Regions from separate parts of the Homo sapiens genome. Here all the other regions are linked to region 1. Evidence: fine-mapped QTL for protein levels in blood plasma. A gene starts in region 1. Each other region holds a variant in brackets. All regions are shown on one strand. Distances are from middle to middle.

The links. PIP is the posterior inclusion probability: the model's chance that the variant is causal. The UK Biobank Pharma Proteomics Project read protein levels with antibody pairs (Olink). The fine-mapping took linkage between variants from a reference panel, not from the people measured, so its PIPs are less certain.
Region 2: its variant is fine-mapped to the plasma level of the IL31RA protein (UK Biobank, PIP above 0.99). The variant lies in the coding sequence of IL31RA. If it changes the protein, the assay may bind it differently, which can mimic a change of level.
Region 3: its variant is fine-mapped to the plasma level of the IL31RA protein (UK Biobank, PIP above 0.99). The variant lies in the coding sequence of IL31RA. If it changes the protein, the assay may bind it differently, which can mimic a change of level.

The regions. Positions count from the first base shown.
Region 1 is chr5:55,844,321-55,855,085 of GRCh38, forward strand. It overlaps IL31RA (interleukin 31 receptor A), which reads left to right and starts at 7,037. Exons shown (of 15, transcript NM_139017.7): 1 at 7,037-7,313. The coding sequence starts at 7,251.
Region 2 is chr5:55,908,637-55,916,636 of GRCh38, forward strand. It overlaps IL31RA (interleukin 31 receptor A), which reads left to right. Exons shown (of 15, transcript NM_139017.7): 12 at 1,896-2,036; 13 at 4,841-4,934; 14 at 6,211-6,292. Among named protein-coding and RNA genes, the nearest start is that of IL31RA, 61 kb to the left of the region's middle. RefSeq lists an enhancer at 2,182-3,381. The variant C/T (reference allele first, on the strand shown) is at 6,238.
Region 3 is chr5:55,879,960-55,887,959 of GRCh38, forward strand. It overlaps IL31RA (interleukin 31 receptor A), which reads left to right. Exons shown (of 15, transcript NM_139017.7): 5 at 3,085-3,236. Among named protein-coding and RNA genes, the nearest start is that of IL31RA, 33 kb to the left of the region's middle. The variant G/A (reference allele first, on the strand shown) is at 3,189.

The DNA of each region.
Region 1 (10,765 bases):
TTGCAAGAAATGTTAAAAGTTCTTCCAAGAGAAGTAAATAATATGAGTCAGAAACTCAGATCTACATAAGGAAAGGAAGAGATCACAGAAGAAATAAGTGAAGGTAAAAGAAACACTTCTATTTTTCTTATTGTGAGTTGACCTAACAGATAAGTTTGTTCAAAGTAATAATAATTATAACAATGTATCTGATTAATATAGTTTATGTGTAAGTGAAAAACAGTCATTTTACTTTTCATTTTCTACAGTTTTAATGATATACCTAGGTGTAGTTTTTCTGGAATTTATCTCACTTGGTGTTCTCTGAGTTTATTGGATCCTTGGTTTGTTTTCTGATGTTAATTTGGGAAAGTCTCTGTTTTTACTGCTTTAAATATTGTGTCTGTTCTTTTTTCCTTCTTCCCTTTCTGGTATTCCCATTATGAGTATGTTACACCTTTGCAGTTGTCCTGAAATTCTTAGATACTATTGTTTATTTATTTTTAGTTTTTTTCTCTTTGCTTTTCCACTTTGCAAGTTTCCATTGTCAAATCCTCAAGCTCAGAAATTATTTCTTCAGCTATGTCCAGTCTACCTGTGACCCCAATAAAGGCATTCTTCATTTTTGTTAGTGTTTTTAACCTCTAGCATCTCTTTTTTATGCTTCCTTAGAATTTCCATTCTGTGCTTAAGATATCCATCTGTTCTTGCAAATTGTCTACTTTTTCCACTCACCCTTAGCATATTAATCATAGTTATTTTATATTTATAGTCTGATAATTTTAACATCCATACCATATCAGGGTCTGGTTGTGATGCTTGCTTTGTCTCTTTAAACTGTGTTTTTTGCCTTTTAGTATGCCTTATAACATTTTGTTGAAAGGTGAACATGATGTACCAGGTAAAAGGAACTGGGGTAAACAGACCTTTAGTGAGGTCATGACAAGATGTGAAGGGAGAGGAAGTGTTTGACAGCCCTATGATTAGGTCTCAGTCTTTTAGTGAGCCTGTGCCTCTGGACTGTGAACTTCACAAATTGTGTTAATTGTGGTACAGGTGGATTTCACTTAGGTGGTACAGGATGGCAAGAGAGGGCTGTAGTGGGGTATTTTCTTTCCCATTAGGTTAGGCTCTTGAGGGCAGGTGATATGGTTTGGCTGTGTCCCCACCCAAAATCTCGTCTTGAATTGTAATCCTTGTAATCCCCACGTCAAGGGCAGGACCAGATGGAGGTAATTGGAACATGGGGGCTATTTCCCCCACGCTGTTCTCATGATAATGAGTGAGTCACATGGGATCTCACGGTTTTTTAAGTGTCTGGCATTTCTCCTACTTGCACCCATTCCATCCTGTTGCCCTGTGAAGAAGGTGCCTACTTCTCCTTTTCCTTCCGCCATGATTGTAAGTTTCCTGAGACCTCCCTGAGCCATGTGGAATTTATAAAGGAAACCTCTTTCCATTATAAATTACCCAGTCTCGGGTGTTTCTTCATAGCAGTGTGAGAACGGACTAATACAGCAGGCCTTGTTAAGAAGAACGAAATGCTCTAGTATATTTCAAAATGGTTACTCCCCTCTGTCCCTCTGCTACCTGCTATTTTTCTCTAATCTTTGCTATGAGAATTTGGTGGTTCTTATACGAGCTCCTGTAGGTAAAACTCACAAAGTATGAGGGCCTCTTTATGACTCGGGCTCCCTGGAGTTTTTGACTCTTATACTTGTCCACACTGAGCCTTGAGTGATTTAACAATGATAATTCAGGTTTTCCTACCCTGGTACTGGTTCCTGTGGAAATGAGTTTGTGTTCTGGGGAGCTGTGATTCTCTGTATATCCACCTGTCTGTCTCTCCAATTTTGGGGACAGTGGTTTGTCCTGTGACCTCACTTCTCTGATGGATCTAAGAAGAATTGTTGATTTTCAGTTTGTTTAGCTTTTTACTTGTTGTTAGGACAGATTTATGCCATTTAAGCTCCTTACATGGGGAACCAGAACCTGGAAGTCCCAGCTGTAAATATTGAAGGCATAATGATTTCTTAACTTTTATATTCTGATGCGTATTGTTTGGTTCTCTGCCTTTCCAAAATAGGAATTGACCCCATAATATTTCTGTACATTTTAACTGGGAATGTTAAGACCTGGATAAATTCTAATCTTGGCTCTGCTGCTAATGATGTTACCTTGGGCAAATCAGAGACTGAGTTTTCTCATCTATAAAAGTGAAGGGTGCAGACTCATTTCTAAGTCTCCTTCTAGCTTTAAAATTCTGAGGTGGGCGGATCACGAGGTCAGGAGTTCGAGACCAGCCTGGCCAACATGGTGAAACTCCGTCTCTACTAAAAATACAAAAATTAGCCAAGCTTGGTGTCGTGCGCCTGTAATCTCAGCTACTTGGGAGGCTGAAACAGGAGACTCGCTTGAACCCGGGCAAAGTTCAGTGAGCCAAGATCATGCCACTGCACTCCAGCCTGGGTGACAGAGCAAGACTCCATCTTGGAAAAAAGAATCTATATTTTATGATGTTACAAAATATTCTCTGATTTTGAACACTAATACCAGTACTCTGGGTAAACCTGTGTGCTCAAGCAGGTGCCCTATTATACTTTCTGGAATTTAAAAATAAACTTTTTATTTTGGAATAAATTTAGATTTATAGAAAAGTTGTTAGCCAGACATGGTGGCTCACACCTGTAATCCCAGCACTTTGGGAGGCTGAGGCAGGTGGATCATGAGGTCAGGAGTTTGAGACCAGCCTGGCCAACATAGTGAAATCCCATCTCTACTAAAAATACAAAAATTAGCTGGGCATGGTGGTGTGCACCTGTAGTCCCAGCTACTTGAGAGGCTGAGGCAGGAGAATCACTTGAACCCGGGAGGTGGAGGTTGTGGTGAGCCGAGATCATGCCACTGCACTCCAGCCTGGGCAACAGAAAAAAAAAAAAAAATAAAAATAAATAAATAAATAAATAAATAAATAAATAAATAAATAAAAAGAAAAGAAAAGTTGCAAAGATAGGGCTGGGCGCAGTGGCTCACACCTGTAATCCCAGCACTTTGGGAAGCCAAGGCCGATGGATTACTTGAAGACCAGCCTGGCCACCATGGTGAAACCCTGTCTCTACTAAAAATACAAAAATTAGGTGGGCGTGGTGGTGCACTCCTGTAATCCCAGCTATTCTGGAGGCTGAGACAGGAGAATCACTTGAACCCAGGAGGCGGAAGTTGCAGTGAGCCAAGATCGCACCACTACACTCCAGCCTGGGTGACACAGCAAGACTCTGTCCCCCGCCAAAAAAAGTTGCAAAGATAATGCAGAGTTCCTGAATACCCCTTACTGTTTTCCCCATTGGCAACATTTTATATTATTATGGTACATTTGTCAAAACTAAAAACCAGATCATGAATGGTACATTACTATTAGCCAAACTCTAGGCTTCTATTTGGATTTCACCAGTTTTTCCATTAATGTCCTTTTTCTGTTCCAGGATCCAATGCAAGCTACCATATTACATTGAGTCATCATATCTTTCCAATCTCCTCTGGTCTGTGACAGTTTCTCAGTCTTTCCTTGGTTTTCATGACCCTGATGGTTTTGAAGAGTGTTGACTAGATATTCTGTAAAATGTCCTCAAACTTGGGTTTTTCTGATGTTTTCCTCATTACTAGACTGGGCTTGTGGGTTTTTGGAAAGAAACCACAAAGATGAAATACCTTTCTTGTCACATTATATCAGGGATTGGTTATATCTATATAACATCACTGGTGATGCTAACTTTCATTAATTGGTTAAGGTAGTGTTTGCCAGGTTTCTCCACTGTAAAATACGCTTTTTGTCTTTCCCAACTCTGTTCTTTGGAAGTGAGTCATCAAGTCTAGCATACCCTGAAGGTGGGAGAAGAGAGGGAATTAAACTTCATTCACTTCTTAAAGATAGCAGTATCTACAGATCACTTAGAATTTTTCTATAAGGAAAATTAGTCTCTTCTTCCACATTTATTTATGCAATCATTTATTAATATTAATATGAAGTAATGTATATTTATTTTATACTTTGAATTATAATCCAGTATACATTATTCACTTTTTTGCTCAAATTGTTCTGGCTTTGGCTGGAAGTTCTTTCAGATTGGTTCCTGTGTCCCTTTGACATGCTCTATCCTTTTGCTTTTTCAACATTTCCTTACTATCTGGTACTACAAGATACTCCAGGCACATTTTGTATTTTCGTTGCCCAAGTCCTGAAATCAACCTTTTCTCCAAAAAGCTCTGGGTTTTAAAACAAATTACAATTTATCTGTTTTGGTTTTTATAAGCATTGCCATGATGACCATCCTTGATGTTATATCTCTGGAAAACTCCATGATTATTTCTTTTAGATAAATATCTAAAAGTGGAATTCCCGGATTAAAGGCATCTAAAATGCTTTTACTATGTTTTCCACTAACAAGGTGTGAGATGGGGGGGCTGCCTCAGGGGCTGCAACTCAAAGCCCACTTCAAATGGGAAACACTATCCATCCGTCAATCCATTTATCTATCTTAGAACTCTCTTTCTATGACTTTCTTATTTTCAAAACAAACAAGGAATAAAGAAAGAAAAAAATGAAACAAGTAAACAAAAGACCTCTCATCTAGACTCTCTAACCACCCAACAAATCACATTGCTCCTCCTAGGAGGAAATGGTTGAGGTGTCAGACTGAGAATGACATCTATTTCCCTTCATGGGGAGAGCACTTGTTAATTCACCTATTAATTCACTTTTAAAATATAATTTTACATTTTATCAAAGTAATACATATACATAGTTTAAACATTCAAGTGGCACTCTAAGACTTACCACGAATAACAGCAATACAGTGCTATATCCCTTCCCATTGCCAAACTTTCTTCACAGAAAAAATCACTTTCATTTCTTTTAGCTTTTTTTTTTTCTGGGGTTTATTTCCATATCTATAAAGAACATGTTTATACTGCAATTTAATTTTTTTTTCAATTTTAGACATTATCTATTGACTTCTTACTAACTATGGAAGATAAAGACTGAAGTCTCTTACCAATTCTATACACAAACACACACATATGTGCATCCTTTCCTAACCCCATTCTTTCAATATAGTTATAACTTTTGTTAAATCCATTAATGTTTTCATTGTTGTGACTCTATAGTTATTCATAGCTGAGCCACATATTGGACTTTAAATATATTTTCTTATATAACATTTTCTTTTTCCTGGAATTAATAATTATGCCATTTTTTGGTTTCCTTAACTTACTGAGCCGATTACTCATCCTTCTCCAAACTTTCTAAGAGTGCTGCAAAACTTTTCAAGTTTCAACATCTGTCAGATCCATTGGGTCCCCTCCATGTATTTTTTCATTGGAAATATCCCTCCTTGAGCCTGGCGTCTGCCACTCACTTGGGCTAGTTGCTCTCCAAGCCTGTTGTACTCTTATCATCTTGGGATCTCCCTTGGCCACCATTCTTGGAATTCTCTCTCTTCTATTTGAAATTTGCTGTTTTTGGGAGCCCATTTTTCCTTTTTGTTTTGGCTTATGCTCTTGTTTTTGTAGTCACTTTTTTCAATAACATCTCGAAAATGGTCACATGGGAGATAAAGTTCTTGAAACTTGGCATGTTGGAAAATGCAGTTTCAAGAACGTTGTTTTACCTTTCTTTCTGATGGATCATTTGGATGGGTAGAGCATCCTAGGTGAGAAATAATTTTCCAATAGAGTTATAAAGGAATTGATCCATTGCTTTCTAACTTCTGGTTTTGTTATTAAGTCTAAAGCCATTCTCATCCTTGATCCTTTGTATGTGACTTATTTTTTTCCTATCTGGAAACATTTTTTTTCTGTTTATTCTTGATATTCTGAAACTTCACTGTTTTGTACTTCAGTGTAGATTTATTTTCATTTATTATGCTGTTTACAGTGGGCCCTTTCAATCTGGAAACAAATGTTCCTCAATTCTTGGGAATTTTATTGTATCACTTCTCTCATTATTTCTTTCCCTCCATTCCTCTGTTCTGTGCTTCTGTACTGCTGGTAGTCAGATGTTGGCTATTCTTCATCTCTTTGTCTTTTCTTCTATCTTCTGGAAGATTTCCTCAACTTTATTTTCTAGTCTTTAGACTTCAGCTCTCATATTTTGAATCTCCAAGAGTTCTTGTTCTCTAATTATGCCTTTATCATAGCATCCTATTCATATTTTGTGGGTACAACATTTTTTCTTATTTTCTATGAAGGTTTAACTAATATTTCTTTTAAAAAATATTCTGCTTTCTGCATTGCCTTTCTTTCAAGTTTTTTCCCCCCATCTGCTGTTGGGATGGGAGAAATTTAATGAATTTGGCTTTGTGGGGTTAGGATTAGGTAGTCTATTTCTTTTTCAGATTTTCAACCAATCTTATGATTTTTGTTTCAGAGGTATAGTCAATTCTCATTATTCCTTCATTATTCCTGGCAATTATGTTCAATAAAATCGCCACAAACACTGAATTAGAAAATACTGCTGAGCGTGGTGGCTCATGCCTGTAATCCCAGCACTTTGGGAGGCCGAGGCAGGTGGATCACCTGAGGTCAGGAGTTTGAGACCAGCCTGAACAACATGGAGAAACCCCGTCTCTACTAAAAATACAAAATCAGCTGGGCTTGGTGGCGCATGCCTGTAATCCCAGCTACATGGGAGGCTGGCCTGAGGCAGGAGAATCACTTCAACCCGGGAGGTGGAGGTTGCGGTGAGCTGAGATGGCGCAATTGCACTCCAGCCTAAGCAACAAGAGCGAAACTCTGTCTCAGAAGAAAAAAAAAAAGAAAAAAAGAAAATACTGAATTATTCTCTGTGGGGGAAATATAGAGTTAGGTGCCTGTGAGCCTCTGGTCACAACATTTTTGTCAGCTAATCAATACATAACCTTGTTTTGTGTGTGTTTCTGTTTAAAGACACCTTATTTAATATACATTGTTGATTCATCAACATTGAACTCATGGCTAATAACAGTACTATGACTCATGCCTGAATAGAGCTTATTTAACACACATATTTTCTCCATGAGGCACAGCCTCCTTCTGCTTAGGAACACCAGACAGCACTCCAGCACTCTGCTTGGGGGGCATTCGAAACAGCAAAATCACTCATAAAAGGCAAAAAATTGCAAAAAAAAATAGTAATAACCAGCATGGCACTAAATAGACCATGAAAAGACATGTGTGTGCAGTATGAAAATTGAGACAGGAAGGCAGAGTGTCAGCTTGTTCCACCTCAGCTGGGAATGTGCATCAGGCAACTCAAGTTTTTCACCACGGCATGTGTCTGTGAATGTCCGCAAAACATTGTGAGTATTGATTTGGGGGGTTACAAATAATTCCTAGCAAGTAGGTGAATTCACAAATAAGGAAGCTGTGAGTAATGAGGGTTGATTTTACCTACCTAGTGTCTCAAATCCTGAGCCGTATGAGATTCCGTGGCATAATTATGTTTGCTTATTGTTGGCAACCTTATTAGGCATTTCTAGGTTTCTGCTTTCTCATCTTTACCAGTTCAGTTATGGCTTGATTCATTTCTCTTTTTCCAAAGATTTGTTGACATCTCTTATTTGCTGTTGCCTCTTCCCATTTGTTTTGTCTTGTGGTTCTATATCTTTGCCATAATTTTTGTGGAGTTTCCTGAGAGAGTAGAGATAAATGTATATGCTCAATTGGTCTTGTCTTAACCAGAATTCTATTTAATACACAACACCTTTAGTGAGCTGTTATGCATGTAATAGGTGTTTACTAAGTATTGGTTGAATAAATTCAAGAAATGCTTGCTATTTTTGTGCTAGCATTTAGCTTTTCTCTATAGTATATTATAATGGAATTTTATTTTATTTTATTTTATTTATTTTTTGAGACAGAGTTTCACTCTTGTCGCCAGGTTGGAGTACAATGGCACGATCTTGGCTCACTGCAACCTCTGCCTCCCGGGTTCAAGCGATTCTCCTGCCTCAGCCTCCCGAGTAGCTGGGATTACAGGTGCCTGCCACCATGCCTGACTAATTTTTTTGTATTTTTAGTAGAGATGGGGTTTTGCCATGTTGGTCAGGCTGGTCTCAAACTCCTGACATCAGGTGATCCACCTGCCTCAGCCTCCCAAAGTGCTGGGATTACAGGCGTGAGCCACCACGCCTGGCTGGAATTTTAAATATCTCATAATTATAATCTTCTAGGTAAAAGACTAGCTCTCTTTCTCACCCTTATTCCTCCTACTTAGTGGAACATTGCCTAAGGAAGATGGGGAATGGGTTAAAAATTAAAATGTGGGGCTGGAAAGCATAGCTTGTTTTAAAACTTAGTTTTCTTTCCTTTTGCATCATAATCTCTTCCCCGGTCTATTTATTTCTCGTGGTTTTGTCAGTCCATTACAAACGGTTGCAAAATTGTGGTACTAGAAGGGATCCTAGAAATAATCTAATTTGAACCTTTGATTGCTAGGAAACTGAGAGTCAGGCTGCCTTGGTTCAAGTCTTGGCTCCACCACCCATGTAGGACATGTTGCTTACTGTTTTGACCTCAGTTTCCTTGCCTATAAAGTGGGAATAAAAATACTCCTGATGTTATAGGATTGTTGTGAAGATTAAAAGAGATAATTAATGTGAAGTTCTTAGTACTATGCCTGACACACAGTAAGAGCTCCACAAATTATTAATGATGATTATTACTAGTGGCTAAACTGAAGCTCTGGTTTCTCAGTTCAGTATGTTTTCCTTTAGACGTAAATAAGAATTTGTAAGCCTCTTTTTGGAGTCAGCTACCATTATTTTCTTTCCTTCATCTCCTTCATTGTCTAAAGACAGTTAACATGATTGCGTATTTCTCATTTCAAGCTAAAGATACTCTCACTGTTTCAGCTATTACCACATTTGTAAGGACTTCCTGAAGAGAAAATTTAAAAGTTAGTCACTTCTTTTAGTTGTTTCTGGTCTTTCAGATGATCCTTTTTTTTTGTAGAGTTGAGTGTTTTTGTTTTTGCTTTTGTTTTTAGTTAACAATAATGCAATCCATTTCCCAGCATAAGTGGGTAAGTGCCACTTTGACTTGGGCTGGGCTTAAAAGCACAAGAAAAGCTCGCAGACAATCAGAGTGGAAACACTCCCACATCTTAGTGTGGATAAATTAAAGTCCAGATTGTTCTTCCTGTCCTGACTTGTGCTGTGGGAGGTGGAGTTGCCTTTGATGCAAATCCTTTGAGCCAGCAGAACATCTGTGGAACATCCCCTGATACATGAAGGTGAGTGCTAATTCATTTAGAAGAGTGATAGTTTGATCATCTTTTTCTACTTTATAAAAGTCTTTTTCTGTTTTCTTCAGTGAAATTATGGGTCAGACCCACCACGTGAATTTCTCCTTGAACTGGTTGTTGATAGTTAAGGGAATCTAATCTTTTGGCAGGCAATATTTTAAAATGCTGAGATCAGAATGGAGAATCATGAGTGTTAGAGGTGAAGGATTGGGGAAAATATCTGAAATAATGGATTTATCTTTCAGGAAACTCTAGGCTAGAGAAAATTAGACCTAGAGGATTCAGAGGAAAATCCTTGTGTGTACTGGTATTTCATGGCAGGAGAGCTGAGAGAGAGTAAATCACTAATAGCTACCACATGATTTTAGTGGAAAGAGTCCAGGTTTGGAATAAGACAGTCGTGAGTTTGAATCTCATTTATGCTGCTTACAAACTATTATTTTTGGACAATTTACATGATATCTCTTGGCCTCAGATTCCATATCCGTAAACTAGAGATGAGTAATACAAACCCTACACGGATTTTTAGAAGTACAGGATGTAATTTGTATAGTGTAGTTAGCACTTTGCAGGCTGTCACTGTTCCAACATGATAGTGCTTTTGCCAGTCTCACTACTGGCTGTCTCAGAATGTTCTTTAAATGAAGGCAGCCCACAACCCAAATGGATTTATAGACTTTGAAACTGGAGGTAGTCATCTGACAGCTCGCAATCTCATCTTGGGCAATGTATATATAATCAATATCCTCATCCAAAAAGTAAGGATGTCATTATTTTATTAGGCTGAAATTGCCAAGATTTAACTGTTTTTGACTTAATAAAAATAGCAATTTCATTTGATTTAACCTAAAACATAATATAGAAATAAAATTTAAAATATGCAGGCCGGGCAAAGTGGCTCACACCTGTAATCCCACCACTTTGGGAGGTCGAGGCAGGTGGATCACCTGAGGTCAGAAGTTTGAGACCAGCCTGGCCAACATGGCGAAACTCTGTCTCTACTAAAAATACAAAAATTACCTGGGCCTGTTGGCAGGCACCTGTAGTCCCAGCTACTTGGGAGGCTGAGGCAGGAGAATCACTTGAACCCGCGAGGCAGAGGTTGCAGTGAACCGAGACTGCACCACTGCACTCCAGTCTGGGTCACAGAGTGAGACCCCGTCTCCAGAAAAAAAAAAAGAAATAAAATATAAAATATGCAACTATAAATATAAAATATATAAATAGAAAATATAAAAATATCTGTCTCATTTACCTGAAGGGTGACAAGAATCTAAGGAGATAGTATACATGAAAGTGCTTGTAAATCTAAGGCCATTATTACTGCGACTATTATCATTACTGCAAGCTCCAAATAAACATTTAAAAGAGACTGAGAACAGGGCACCCTTCTACTTGATCAGTGAAAGTATAAACCAAGTCCTGTGGGTCTTGAGGAATTCTGAGGCACTGAGAGAGGCTGAGCAGTGCATCGCTTGACTACCTCCCTCTCAGTGTTATGAGTCT
Region 2 (8,000 bases), 63 kb after region 1:
GGAAATGGAAGGAGTTGTTATAATTTGTCCTGGTTAGGCCCTGAATTGACCTCCCGGGAGCTCCCCGACCATCATTCCCAGGAATGGCGTGCCTGGCTTAAAGAGTGAGGAGGAACAGACCCTGTCACCATGACTTCTACTGCCCCTGCCAAATCATGCTTTTGTTTTTCAGTCCACCTTATCTCCTGACATCTTAAATACTGGGCAAGGCTTGGATTCTTGCTTAGGCTAAATAATTTTTTCTTATGGTAAAATACACGTAAAATATTTTTCCAGTTTAAACATTTGAAAGTGTACAATTTAGTGGCATTAGAAGCATTCACAATATTGTGCAACCATCACCACTATTTCCAGAACTCTTCTATTTCTGCCCAAATAGAAGCCCTATACCCATTCATTAGTCACTCCCCATTCCTCTCCTCCCACAGCCCCTGGCAACTACCAAACTGCTTTGTGTCTCTATGGATTGCCTATTTTGGATATTTCATATACATAGAATCATAAAATATGTGGTCTTTGTGTCTGGCTTCTTTCATGTAGCATGTTTTCAAAGTTCACCCATGTTATAGCATGATTTTGTACTTATTCATTTTTATGGCTGAATAATATTCCATTGTGTGGATATTCCATATTTTGTTTATCCATTCATCAGTTGATGAACATTTAGGGTGTTTCAACCTTTAGGCTATTGTGAATAGGGCTGCTATGAACAGATGTCTGCTACGAACATATGCTGCTGTGTACAAATATGTGTTTGAGTTTGTGTTTTTCGTTCTTTGGGGCATATACCTAGAAGTTGAATTGCTGGATCATACTGTAACTCTAGTTTAACTTATTGAGGAGCCACCAAACAGTTTTCCACAGTGACTACTCCACACTATACATTTTTTACTAGCAATGTATGAGAGTTTTCATTTCCCTGCATCCTTGTCAATACGTGTTATTTTTCATTAAAAAAAATTATTATGGCTGTCCTGGTAGGTATGTAGTGGTTATCTCATTGACTTGCATTTCCCTACTGACTAATAATGTTGGGCATCTTTTCATGTAGTTTTTGCCCATTTGTATATCTTTTTTTTTTTTTTGAGACGGAGTTTTGCTGTTGTTGCCCAGACTGGAGTGCAATGGCACGATCTTGGCTCGCTGCAACCTCCACCTCCCAGGTTCAAGCGATTCTCCTGCCTCAGCCTCCCAAGTAGCTGGGATTGCAGGTGTGCACCACCACGTCCAGCTAATTTTGTATTTTTAGTAGAGATGGAGTTTCTCCATGTTGGTCAGGCTGGTCTCGAACTCCCGACCTCGGGTGATCTGCCTGCCCCAGCTTCCCAAAGTGCTGGGATGACAGGCATGAGCCACTGCGCCCGGCCAGCCCGTTTGTATATCTTCTTTGGAGAAGTGTATTTTTCATCTTTTTTCTTATGTTTAAATTGGGTTATCTTTTCGTTATTGAATTTATAAGAGTTCTTTATATATTCTGGATATAAGTTATTTATCAGATATATGATTTGTAAATATTTTCTCCCATTCTTTGGATTATCTTTTCATTCTTGATATTATCTTTTGATGCACAAAAACTTTGAATTTTAGTGAAGTCCAGCTTGATCTATTTTTTTCTTTTGATGTTTGTGTTTTTAGTGTCATATCAAAGAAACCATTGTGAAATTCAAGGTTGTGAAGATTTATCCTATGCTGTCTTCTAAGAATTTTTATAGTTCTAGTTCTTATATTGAGGTCCTTAATCCATCTTGATATTTAAGCAGGACATGAATAGGGGTCAGAATATGAGACAGCTGAGCTTGGAAGCACAGGTTCCAATGCTCTTATTTTGGTGCTACTGGGACACAATTTTCAGTCTGGTTTGGCTGTGGTGTTTGACCTTTGTATTTTTCCTTTAGCCAAGACAGTCAATTCCAGCATCTTGCAGTACGGCCTGGAGTCCCTGAAACGAAAGACCTCTTACATTGTTCAGGTCATGGCCAGCACCAGTGCTGGGGGAACCAACGGGACCAGCATAAATTTCAAGACATTGTCATTCAGTGAGTATTTCCTTCAAGCCTTAGGTACCTCTCCCTCACGTTTACCTTACATCAGAGAGAAATGACATCTGCCAAAAGCTGGAGGAAGCCAAATGAAAGGGCAGTGCCTAGTGCCCTGCCATCCTGCTCTCTGTTCACCAACCTTCCTGGAAAGCATATAGGTGAGGAGATGGGAGGGAAGAGCAGGCAAGTTGAGAGCCGAATTTGGAAATGCTGGTCATTTTGGTCGTTCCTCATGGGCAGCCACAAATCATCTGGAGGAGGAGGTGTCAAATTAATGCCAACTTCAGTCTTAGCACCAAACCAGCTCCCATCTCAAGGCTGTCTCCCCGTTCATAGTCACCAGTTTCTGCATGTTATAGGTTACGGTATGTATTAGTCTGTTTTCACGCTGCTGATAAAGACATACCCGGGACTGGGTAATTTATAAAGAAAAAGAGGTTTAATGGACTCACAGTTCCACGTGGCTGGGGAAGCCTCACAGTCATGGTGGAAGGTGAAATGCACATCTTACATGGTGGCAGTCAAGAGAGAATGAGGACCAAGTGAAAGTGATTTCCCCCTATAAAACCATCAGATCTCATGAGATTTATTCACTACTATGAGAACAGTATGGGGGAAATTGCCCCCATGATTCAATTATCTCCCCCTGGGTCCCTCCCACAACATGTAGGAATTATGGGAGCTACAATTCAAGATGTGATTTGGGTGGGGACACAGCCAAACCATATCACTGTACAACAGGGCCTTCAAGGGAAAACCTTGGTTAACTCAGGACTACTGACCCATAGGAAGGGGCTTAACCTCATCATTTGTGGAGGTTTTTTTTGAGCAAAAAGACATATGATATATTTAACTTACCCACTTTTACATTAAAAAATAGCAAGAAAAATTTACTAGAGACAACAAATAATGTAAAATAAAATGTAGCTTCATATGATGGCTGGTTAAGGGAGATATTTAGAGGCAGGCAGATGGAATGAGGAGGGGGATGAAGCAGAAAGAAGGAAGGAGAATGGGAGAAACAGATATATATTAATTTTGCTAAGTCCTTGAGTGACAGAGATTTGATTTTTAAGTACGTACTAAAACTGTCTTAAAGAATGAACAACGCTTTTTAGATTAAAAATGAAGGAACACTGCCAAGTTTTTGCAATAACTGAGGCAAGCTAAAAATTGCTTGAAATATTCTTGAAAGCCTCTTATGCATCACATTTTTCAAGAATAAAATGCTTTATCACTCTGGAAAATGTGAGTATGACATGTTTTTTTTACAGAGAAAACATATTCTGTTTTGATGGACTAACATTGCCCTCTAGGAACTCTTTTTGATATGCTGTTTAAATTTTTTTAAAGCTGTATTGAATTTTTGCAACACTGGGCACAAATTTCATCAGCTCAAGGAGTTTTCTCCAAGGGTTAAATGAAGGCAAGATCCAGCCCTGGAACCTAGAAGTTTCCTACCCTGGTCTATAGATTATAAATCACCCTGCTTCCATTTTTGATCCTCTATAATCCATTTTCCACACAGCAGCCAGAGTTTCAAACCCTGAATTCTCTGCTTAAAAGCCACAGTGACTTTTATTATATTTTAAAGAAAATCCAAACTCCTTCCTATAACTTTCAAGGTCTTTCATCATCTGTCCCTTACTGACCACATTTTTCCTACTGCTTTCTGCCTCTATTTATCTTCCTTACCTTGTTGCTGCTTCAAAGCTTTTGCATCCACTGTTTCTTCTGCCTGGAATGCTTTTCTCCATGGTTTTGCATGGCTGGATCCTTCTCACTATTAAGATCAGCTTGAATTTCACTCCTTCCTTGGACACCTTAGCTAAAGTTGCTGTCTGGACGCAGTGGCTCATGCCTGTAACTCCAGCACTTTGGGAGGCCAAGGCAGGAGGATCACTCAAGGCCAGGAGTTCAAGACCAGCCTGGCCAACATGGTGAAACCCAGTCTCTGCCTAAAATACAAAAATTAGCCGGGCTTGGTGGCACGTGCCTGTAATCCCAGCTACCAGGGTGGCTGGGGCAGGAGAATCACTTGAACCCAGGAGGCGGAGGTTGCAGTGAGCCAAGATGCACCACTGCACTCCAGCCTGGGCAACAGAGCGAGACTCCATCTCAAAAAGAAAAAAAGTCTAAAAATTAGCTGGGCATGATGGCTTGCACCTGTAAGTCCTAGGTACTTGGGAGGCTGAGGCAGGAGGTTGCTTGAGCCCAGGAGTTCGAGGCTACAGTGAGCTATGATCATGCCAGTGCACTCCAGCCTGGGCGACAGAGCAAGACCCATCTCAAAAAAAATTTATAAAAATTAAAAAGTAAGTGCTCAATAAGTATTCACTGAATGAATGCTGTTGGAATGAATGCTGCCAGGAAGACACCTAGATGGGGAGGCACAAAATTCTGTTTTTTGTTTTTGTTTTTGTTTTTGTTTTTGAGATGAAGTTTAGCCCTGTCGCCTAGGCTGGAGTGCAACAGCATGATCAGCGCTCACTGCAACCTCCGCCTCCCAGGTTCAAGCGATTCTTCTGCCTCAGCCTCCTGAGTAGCTGGGATTATAGGTGCACACTATCACACCCGGCTAATTTTTTGTATCTTTAGTAGAGACGGGGTTTCACTATGTTGGCCAGGCAGGTCTCAAACTCCTGACCTGGGGTTTTTTTAGTGGAAAGAAATTGAATTTAACTGAAAGAAAACTAATAAGACATTGTGTTGCTGAAGCTACTAGAAGAAAAAGTTAATCATTGATTTTTGTCAAGAAGGTGAGGAACTCACTACTGACTTTTGTTCTTTGTTTTTCAAAGGTGTCTTTGAGATTATCCTCATAACTTCTCTGATTGGTGGAGGCCTTCTTATTCTCATTATCCTGACAGTGGCATATGGTCTCAAAAAACCCAAGTGAGTCTGCAGACAACAGTGGGTGCCTTAAAAATCAGGGACAAAAAGGGGTTGAAGTCATCATAGGTGCTTCGTAGGAGAGGGCACTCTACCATTAAGGGGTGTTCATTCATTTATTAACTTGGTGCGTATTTATTGAGGTTATTAAAGGCCACGCTCAGTGGCTCACCGGAATTCTGACCAAGCAAGAGCACTTTCGTTTCCCAGAGCTCCATGCCCAGGTCTAGGCCTTTTTGAGGCCAGGAGAGTGCCAGCTGCCCCACAGGCTCTGTCTGCTCCATTTGCCATCTGAGACTGGAGTTGGAGAGCAGACCCTTTCTCTCAGTGTCTAGCAGGGCCCCTGGCTGCAGCAAGAGGCCTTCTTGCGAGCTCTGTCTCAGGCAGAGCGGGGAGCAGTGTCTCCACGGTGTTGGAGTGCTGGCCAGTCGTCTGTGGGTGCAAGCTTATTGCTTGCTTGTGGTGCAGTGTTGAGGGTCTGGCTGCAGGGGCCTTTAACCTGCTTGCCCTGGCCACTGTGGGGAAGAAAGCATGTCTTCAGGGTCTTAGACTTTCTCTCTGCAGTGAGCCTTATGGCACCCTAATGGTCCTCCCCTGGTTGAGCTGTCTCTCCAAATTAGACAGTTGTGAGTCATCTCTGTCAAGCAGCTGCACTTAGTTAATGGTCAAGCTAATATCAACCTCCGTTACCAACTGTAGGTAATAACCAAGCCACCAGCATAGATTCTTGTACATTATGCACTTAAGTAATCATTTTGATCTTAGCATGCATCAGAATCAGGCCTCACCCCCAAAGTTTCTGATTCAGTGGTTCTAGGGTAAAGCCCCAAAATGTTCATTTCTAACAAGTTCCCAGGTGATCCCAATGCTGCTGGTTGGGACCACACTTGGAGAACCATTGCAGGAAAGTATGGGTAGCTTATAAGGTTTATAAAATGTTGTCTTTCCCAGAGGATAAGCCTCAAAGGAATGACTCTGTGATGGTGCAATTTACAGCATTGGGACCAGGTATGGAGATGCTGGGATGGGAGAGAGGGGAAGATAGGCTTTGTATGGGGAGAGTCTCCTTTGATCACATCCCACAGAGAACTTGCAATGTCACCCCCCAACACACACCGCAAAACAACTCCACTTTCCCAGGTTCTATTAGGCAGACATGCCCTTATTTAGGAGGGAAACTTACAATTCCCTTTAGCACAGCCTCACTCTTTTGACTCAGCCATATGGTGCTAATGCTTCTTGGATTCAATTCCCATCTTAAAATCTTCTCTCTCATTAGCAAATTGACTCATCTGTGTTGGCCCAC[C/T]GTTCCCAACCCTGCTGAAAGTAGTATAGCCACATGGCATGGAGATGATTTCAAGGTAAACTCTCCTGTTTTTATTAAGGAAATCATTGCCGTGGGAGGTAGACGAGGTGAATGGAGATGGGGAAAGAGTCCTAGGCTGAGCTTTTTTCAAGGTTCACATCAAGAGAACTGGAGTTGAAAAGTCTCAGGGAATGGCAGGCAGGGCAGATGGACTCAGCCTTCCTGGAATGACTTTGACTTCATGCTTTGACAAGGGGAAAGGGCTTCACCAGGCTCATGAGGACCCAGTGCGTTCCCAGGTGGAACTGGTCCCATAAAGGATGCTGCAGAATAAAGACACTGGCCCTACCCTTCCTGACCTGATGGGCTAATTAGAGAGAGAGGAGCCTTGGCTATAGGATTTGAAGCCATTTACAAAGCAGCCAAGAGCACATTAATCTAAAGACTGTCTAAATATCACCAGGGAATGTTGATGGGCATGGCAGTCTGAGGCTGCCTCAGGTTGTTTTTCTCAGGCTGGGGACGTCAGAGTCAGGCTTTATTTAACTGGCATTGGGGTTTTCTAGTGAGTATTCCTTAACTAGAAACCCTCCATTTGCATAAATTTTTAAGTGGAAAACCGTTAGGGAAATTTTAAGGTTTAATTTCTTGCTTACGTAGAAACAAGCCCAATCAAATATAACCTTTAAATCCTTGTTACTGAAAGGCTGTTTCCAGTTTTTCCTTGATGCACAAATTTTAAATATTAGTCCTCGTTCCCACTCAGAAGTCTTTTTTGAGCATGGGCCTTTTGTTATAATGGGCTTTCTTTCTGTTTCCTCCTCTTATCAGTCCGGTATACTGGACTGATTTATACCCCCATTTACTTTCCTGCTTATTAAATGTCATTTAGAGAGTAAATGGATTCATAGGCAGTGCTCTCTGATAACTAACATGCTTTTTGAATAATCCGTAGGTTGGACCTCTAGAGCCGGCACTTATTAATCACTCACTACATGCCAGGTGCTGGGCTAGGCCCTAGGGATACAAATGACAAAGTCACTGTCCCTGCCATGAGGCCACTTCTGATTTTCTGGTGAGGTTGAACAAGTCTGTCTCTATGATGTGGTTTTTCCATCCCTAAGAGTTCTAATTTTAGTTCTTCCATCTTAACTGGGGTTTTGTGAACATGGGATTGTGTGGAAAATAGCCTTGCACACTCTAGCAGAAGAAATTGTTTGAATTGGCTGGGTACAGCGGCTCATGCCTATAATCCCAGCATTTTGGGAGGCCAAGGCAGGGGGGATTGCTTGAGCTCAGGAGTTTAAGACCAGCCTGGGTAACATGACAAAACCCCATCTCTACAAAAAATTAAAAAGTAGCCAGGTATGGTGGTGTGCATCTGTAGCCCCTGCTACTCAGGAAGCTGAGGGGGAAGAATTACCTGAGGCTGAGAAGTTGAGGCTGCAGTGAGTGGTGATCATGCTACTGTACTCCAGCCTGGGCAACGGGAGTGAGACCCTGTCTCAAAAAAAAAAAAATTATATACATATAAATAAATAAATTTTAAAAATTGTTTGAATCCAGGGCACTGTTTCTCAGGAAATGTGCCACTCCTTCCAAGCTCTGTGGAAGGGCATGCAGAGAGGGTTGGCTACCACTTCTGGGCCTGGGAGGAAGGTGGGGGCTGTTCCAGAGATGGGCATTTGCTGTCCCAAGCCTAACGAGTTTTTGGCTATGTCATATGTGACTCCTAAATGACCACTTGGGATGTCCCTTTTTCT
Region 3 (8,000 bases), 34 kb after region 1:
AGTGTAATGAACAAGGGCAGAAACTTTGGTGTGGATACAAATGAGTCTTAGATTGGCTTCTTATTAGAAAGTTATTTTCCCTTTTCCAATACCAGTTTTATCTTCTGTAGAATGGATATAATAAATGTTAGGTGGTTGAGAGGATTCAACAAAATGATTCACCTAAAAAAATACTTATCAAGTGCTCAATACATATAAATAATTTTATGGAAATACTTAATATGTCTATTGTATACAGCTCTACTTACTAGTGGCCACACGGATTGATGACCACCCTTTAGTCCAGGCATCAGTACAAATTATTTTTTGAGTAGCTACCAAGAGTTTTCTGAATATTTTTACCCAGTTAATGTTTTAAAGTCCATGTCTCTAAGTAGGGATTTTGCTTTCTAAAACTCTTCAAGAATTACAAAGACCCCATTCTCCATGATGTGATTATTTTACATTGCATGCCTGTATCAAAACAGCTCATATGTCCCATAAATATACACACCAACTATGTACTCAAAAAATTAAAAATTTTAAAAATTAAAAAAAGAATTACAAAGACTAAAAAGATAATACTATTCAATTCTAGCTAGCAAGAGTCTGGTGAGATGGGTATTCATACAATGTTGATGGAAACTGAAATTGGTATAACCTTTCTGGAAAGCTAAATGGCACTGTGTGACAGCAGCCCTAAACATGGTCATGCCCTTTTACCCAGTCAGCCTCTGCTAAGGGGTCTAGGGAAACCACCAGAGATGTAAAGGAAAATTCAACCATCATCCATTTACTCATTCACTTAACAAATATTTGATACCTGCTAAATGTCAGGTGTTAATTCTAGACTCTGTGATCAAGACCAGCCTTTGTCCTCAAGGAGTTTTAAATGAAAAATTAGAAACACTATTGTTAGCGGTGGAAGTTATCTGAGTTACCAGCAGCAAATCCGTATGGGTCTGCAGCAACCTCAGTTCTTGCCTCCTCGGAAGAAAGAATTCAACTGAGGGGCATACGACAGAAGAAGAAACTGAGGCACGTTTTAGAGCAGGAGTGGAAGTTTATTAAAAAGCTTTAGAGGCCGGGCGCGGTGGCTCATGCCTGTAATCTCAGCACTTTGGGAGCCTGAGGCGGGCGGATCACGAGGTCAGGAGCTTGAGACCGTCTTGGCTAACATGGTGAAACCTTGTCTCTACTAAAAATACAAAAAATTAGCTGGGCGTGGTGGCAGATGCCTGTAGTCCCAGCTACTAGGGGGGCTGAGGCAGGAGAATGGCGTGAACCCGGAAGGCGGAGCTTGCAGTGAGCCGAGATCGCGCCACTGCACTCCAGCGTGGGTGACAGAGCAAGGCTCCATCTCAAAAAAAAAAAGAAAAAGATAAAGAAAAAGAAAAAAAAGCTTTAGAGCAGGAATGGAAAGAAGGAAGAAGGTAAAGAACACTTGGAAGAGGGCCAAGTGGGCATCCTGGAGGTCAAGTGCCCCGTTTGACCTTGGACTTTTCTGCGCCTTGGGTTTTCTACGCCGGCCTACTTCCGGCACCTTGCGTCCCATTTCCCTTGATTCTTCCCTTACGGTGAGCTGCCCACTTGCACGGCGGCCTGCTAGAACTTAGGAGGTGAGCATGCGCAGTGTATTTACTGGAGTCGTACGCATGCTCAACTGAGGCGTTCTTCCCTTTTCCATTGGAATGCCCCCAGAAGCTCATATACCAGTTAAACTCTGCCATTTTGCCTCTTAATGGCCATGCTTGAGCCCACTCGCCCAGTTCCTGAGATTTTTTTTTTTTTTTTTTTTTTTTTTTTTGAGACAGAGTCTCACTGTGTCGCCCAGGCTGGAGTGTGGTGGTGCAATCTGCCACCTCTGCCTACTGGGTTCAAGTGATTTTCCTGCCTCCTGAGTAGCTGGGATTATTGGCGCCCGCCACCATGCCCGGCTAATTTTTGTATTTTTAGTAGAGATGGGGTTTCACTATGTTGGCCAGGCTGGTCTTGAACCCCTGACCTCCTGATCTGCCTGCCTCAGCCTCCCAAAGTGCTGGGATTACAGATGTGAGCCACTGCGTCCAGCCCAATTCCTGAGATCTTACTGGGGAGCTGCCAATCACCAGTTACAGGTGTTTTTATATATTGGGAAACTGCCTTTCCCTGGTGCTGGCTACAGCCAATTATTAGGTTTGCAAGGCAGCGTGACAATGGTCTGAGCATCACCTGATGGTCACCTGACTTTCCTGGTGGGGTGTAGGGGGAGCCCTCTCCTGTCCTTCTCATGCCTGATTAGCTACCTACTGTAATACCATGAATGTGCGATAATAGAACATAAGTCAAAAAATTATGTTCATTCATAAAGTAGAATATTATGAACCTTAAAAATCATGTTTTGAAGAATTATTAATACAAAGGGATATATGCTGATTGCATAATGTTATTTTTAAAAAACAAAAGCTTTATTTAGCGTAATACCAATTTTGTTAGAAGATAATGCAAATAATTATACGGAAAACGGCTGAAAGGAAATATAACAAAATGGTAATAAGGGTTATCTCTGGTTGATGGGATAATGGATGATTTTTAGTTTTTCTTTGTATTTTTCTACACTTAAAAAATGTTGTATAATAAGCATATGCTACATTTATAACTAGAAAAATGCATATTTTCAAAGAGAGAAATTTAAGGCTAAAATGTTTGCAGTGTGCAAGGAAAATGAGAGTTATTTTCTAGTGTTTATAGTGGGTATTCCATCATCCTAGGGGTCAAGGAAGGAGAGGCCTAGGGGAGGTGAGAGTAAATAAGAGAGACAGCCTATTTTCTGGTTGTGTGGTCTCTTTTTACCTCCCTTCTGCTTGGCATAGCATATGACCAATCAATAAGAGGCTGATTTGCTGAAAAATCACAGGAATGCATCCTTCTCTCACTGGGTATTCCTTTTTCAGAGGTGTTGGGGTTGGGGGGGTGACATTCCTTTTGTACTGCCTTGCAAATGCCATCTTCGTTCCATATAGCAGACCACAATGCACGTATCATTTTTTTTCAATTTTGGGTGGATGCTATTAGCAAATTCTTATCTTTTTGCAGATATGAGAGTTGTATGATTTTTATTTTCAGCGAAAACTGAACCACCTAAGATTTTCCGTGTGAAACCAGTTTTGGGCATCAAACGAATGATTCAAATTGAATGGATAAAGCCTGAGTTGGCGCCTGTTTCATCT[G/A]ATTTAAAATACACACTTCGATTCAGGACAGTCAACAGTACCAGCTGGGTAAGTTATGCCATTATAATAATATTCCAATTAGAGGCCCAGAGGAAAAGAATCATTGACAACTATTGTTGACCTGGAATCATTATTTCACTTTTTACATTAAAAATAGAAGAGAGACATTGCTAAGTACTTCTCCTTCCAGTTTTCCATTTTTCCATCTGGACCTTTTAGATTGGAAGGGTGTTCTACAATAGGCATTTTTGCCTTCTGAGCACAGGGACATAATAAAGAGTGAGAAATTTACTTCTGCATTATATCCAAGTTTGTGTCTGGCTATGTTGGCTACCAGAGAGTCTATGGTTTGGCCATTTTATTTTTTATTTTTCTGACCTTTTATAAAATCATGAGGTATAACATACATTTGGAAAGGTGAACAAAACGTAATATTACATTTAACAAATTATTATTAAGTCAGTGCTCATGTAGAAACCACTGCGGCCAAGAATAGAACTTCTCCAGGATGCCAGAGCCCCCTGCTTACCCTTTGCTCATGACCTCTGTTAGAGCTGTTACCCTGATTTTCATGGTAATCTTCTTTGCTTTCATTTTTTACCATTTAAGGCTGCATCACTGAAGAACATAGTTTAAGAGACTATGCCCTGTTTCCTTGAGTCCCAGGATGAAGAAGCGCCCAGTAGAAATAGAGGAGGAGCATATAAAGGGAATCCATATATTTTGTATTTTCTAATGTTTGGCTTCTATCTCTCAATATTGTGCTTTTAAGACTTATTCATGCTATATAATGCTGTAGTTTATACATTTTCATTGCTGTGTAGTATCTCATAGTATGAACATGATGGAATGGTGGCTTTAATTTGCATTTACCTGACCTTTAATGAAGTTACACACCTTTTCACATGTTTATTGGCCCTTTGGATTCCTTCTTCTGGAAGCGCTGATTTAAGCCTTTTGCATGTTTTTTCTATTGGCTGGTCTGCCTGATTTTTCAATTGATTTGTAGGCATTCCTTACATATTCTATTTATGAGTCTTTTATTTGTTACGTGTATTGCAAACATCTTTCACTATGTGGCATGACGTTTCACTCTCTTAATGGTGACTTTTGAGGAATAGTCACTTAATTTTAATATGGTTAGAGTTTTATCAGTCTTTACCTTTATGCTTAATGCCTTTTGTGTCTTAGGAAATGTTTTCTTACCTCAAAGTCAAGAAAATATTCTGCAGTTTCCATCAATGCAGCCTGAAATTGTATCACCTTTTTGTAATCATCTCATATTTATTGCCTTTTTATAAATTTTAGACAGGGTCTCACTCTGTTACCCAGGCTGGAGTGCAGTGGTGTGATTGCAGCTCATTGCAGCCTTGAACTCTTGGGCTCAAACGATCCTCCTGCCTCAGCCTCTCGAGCAGCTAGGACTACAGGCATATGCCACCATGCCTGGCTGATTTTTAAATTTTTTTTGTAGTGTTGCCCAGGTTGGTCTGGAACTCCTGGTCTTAAGTGATCCTCCTCTCTCAGCCTCCCAAAGTTCTGAGATTACAGGTGTGAGCCATCATGAGCAGACACATTATTGACTTTTAATCAACTATTAGCCAATTAAATCTTTAAGACTTTTTACCTCCTGAAGACTTGCCAGTAAAACATACCTCTACTATCTTATCATTTGTTGGTTTTTAACCTAAGTTCAGGTGTTTTATTTATTCTTATTGAATGTCTTCATGTTGGTCTTATCTATCATTCCAGCCTATTTAGAATCCTGTTTGGTCACCCAAAACTTATGATTAACTTTTTACTTTTTAACTTTTCAGTATCCCCAGATTTGATAACACTTCCTTCTATACCTTTATCTAATTATTAATAAAAATGGTGACTACATCAGAGCCCTGTGGTAAACCAGTAGAAACCATCCAGAGGATCAACCCCTCCTTTGGATATGGTCATTTATTCAGGTTTCTATGAATATACCTAATTACCACTATCATCATTCAGCCTACTTTTTTTTATCTTGTCCAGGAGGCTATCATGCGACCCTTTCCCTTGTGGAAACCCATAGACACCCTGTTTACTGCAGCATGCTCTCCTTGTCTGGAACTCTTTCAGAAAAGCATTATTTGTCCTATTGTTGCAGAATTTTTGCTCCTTAGTTCAGCTAAATCCGGGTTCTTGTGTCAACAGGAAAAATTAGGCACGTGGACACATTGAAGGGTGAGGAGAGAGGAATTTATTGGGCGAAAAGGAAAAAAGAGAAAAAAATTCTCAGCAAAGCGAGATGGGCTCCTGCTAACAGGCTACCACCTCACAGACTGAATACCAGGCCACCACACAGGAGCTAAAGAGGCCAGGCTCCTTCCCCCTGCACAAAGCGTGAACTTCCCGTGGCTCCACCCCATTCTCCCAGTGCACAGGCGGGTCCCCAGTCTGTTGTCGACATGCGCGGACAAGACCCTGGGCAGGTTTCCTCATCTACACAAAAGCATCTGATGTAAACACTTGGGCGGGTCAGAGATTCTCTGGGAACCCCCCTTATCTGCCTTCTGCCTCTATCACTGTGTTCAGAGAGATGATAATGGCCACTTCTCCCCCCAGCTTCCTTTCTAAGCCAGCTCTGGAACCATTCTCTTTGAACCTGCCTACATGGAACATTAGATTCATTAATTGTAGTTTGGGGAACCCCTAAGCAGAGCAGTCCCCGGTATAGCACAAGCTCCTCTTCATACCACATGTCATGGTCTCCGTGAACCTGAGAAACTTCTGGGATAGTCTACTGGCTATAAACCCTTAATTCCTTCTATTTGGCTGAGTGCAGAGTTACTACAGCTGCTGGGGGATAGGATTCAACAAGAAAAATAAACCAGGACCAGAGTCCCTCTGGAAAATTACTATACCGCATATAACACTAAGTGAGGGCAACGGGTATAAACTACCCAACCCTTGGCATCCTGTACCCCGTATCTTTAACAAACTCACCCACATCTGTACTCATCTTTGCTTCCTGCCAGTCCCAGAGGTAAAATGTCCTGCCTCCTGTTTTCCTGGAGGATGCAGGAAGGAAGGTGGAAGTCTGTACTACTCTTTCTCTCTCCTTAGCTAGCTTGCTTGCTTGCTTGCTTGCTTTTTTTTTTTTTTTTTTTTTTTGAGGTGGAGTTTCACTCTTGTTGCCCAGGCTGGAGTGAATGGCATGATCTTGGCTCACTGCAACCTCCACCTCCGGGGTTCAAGTGATTCTCCTGCCTCAGCCTCCCAAGTAGCTGCGATTACAGGCTTGTGCCACCACACCTGGCTAATTTTTTGTATTTTTAGTAGAGATGGGGTTTCACATGTTGGTCAGGCTGGTCTCGAACCCCTGACCTCAGGTGATCCACCTGCCTCAGCCTCCCAAAGTGTTGGGATTATGGGCATAAGCCACCATGCCTGGCCTTCTCCTTAGCTTTCAAATACAAGCAGTTATCCTCAGTTGCAATCCCAGCTAAACCCAACTCTGCTCTTCCCAACCTTCTATCAAAGATTTCCATTGTTGATGGAAAAGGGTCCAAATTATTAACTCTGTGAGACCTGGCATCTACCGATCCCTTCACGCTCTTGCTCTTGCCTCTCTGGTCATTCTGAATTGCTTGTTTCCCTTGCATCATGTTCTCTCACTCTTTCTGTGCCTTTCCTAGAACACCCTCTGCTTTTGCACCTCTCCTGCCCCAATCTCCACCTTTCAGAACTCAGGCCTGACATATTTCCTTCTGAGGGCCTGGGCCTGGTCCCTCCTCTGCATGCTTCTGTCATTGCACTTAACAGCAATGCATTTCAACTTTCTCTTCCAGTTACACTGTAAATTCTTCAAATGCAGGGACCTTAGTTTTCATCTGTTTTCCCTTTGCCTGGTGCATGCCTGTGCTCAATAAATATTTGTTTAAATGTAGCCATGTAAAACTAATGCTAAAATTCCAACATGTCCGTTTAACAAGACCCATATTTGTATGATATTATGAGTAACAAAGAGCTTCCTTATACTCCAAATTATTTAATCCTTGCAAATATCCTGTAATTGAGGCCTTGCTATCCCCATTTTTGCAGATTAGGAAATCAAGATGTTGAAAGCTTAAATCATCTATTCAAGATCACAGGGCTTGTCAGTTGCAAACCTAAGCTCAGGTTTTCTGTCTCCCAGGTTTGCCATCCATGTGACCTTACCTCAACACCCTCCAGATTCTTTTGTGGCCCTAGTCTAAAGGGTTTGCACCTTTGTATAATAAAGCCATGTGAGCCTCTTAGAAAGGGATCTCAAAAGTATTTTAAGAATTTGATTTATGGACTGGGTGCAGTGGCTCACGCCTGTAATCCCAGCACTTTGGGAGGCCGAGGTGGGTGGATCACCTGAGATCAGGAGTTAGGGACCAGCCTGGCCAACATAGTGAAACCCTGTCTCTACGAAAAATACAAAAAAATTAGCCGGGAATGGCCGGGCACGGTGGCTCACGCCTGTAATCTCAGCACTTTGGGAGGCTGAGGCGGGTGGATCACAAGGTTAGGAGATCGAGACCATCCTGGCCAACACGGTGAAACCCCGTCCCTCTAAAAATACAAAAAATTAGCCGGGCGTGTTGGCAGGCACCTGTAGTCCCAGCTACTCGGGAGGCTGAGGCAGGAGAATGGCATGAACCCAGGAGGTGGAGCTTGCAGTGAGCCGAGATCGCCACCGTACTCCAGCCTGGGTGACAGAGCAAGACTCTGTCTCAAAAAAAAAAAGAAAAAATTAGCCCGGCGTGGTGGTGCGGACCTGTAGCCCCAGCTACTGGGGAGGCTGAGGCAGGA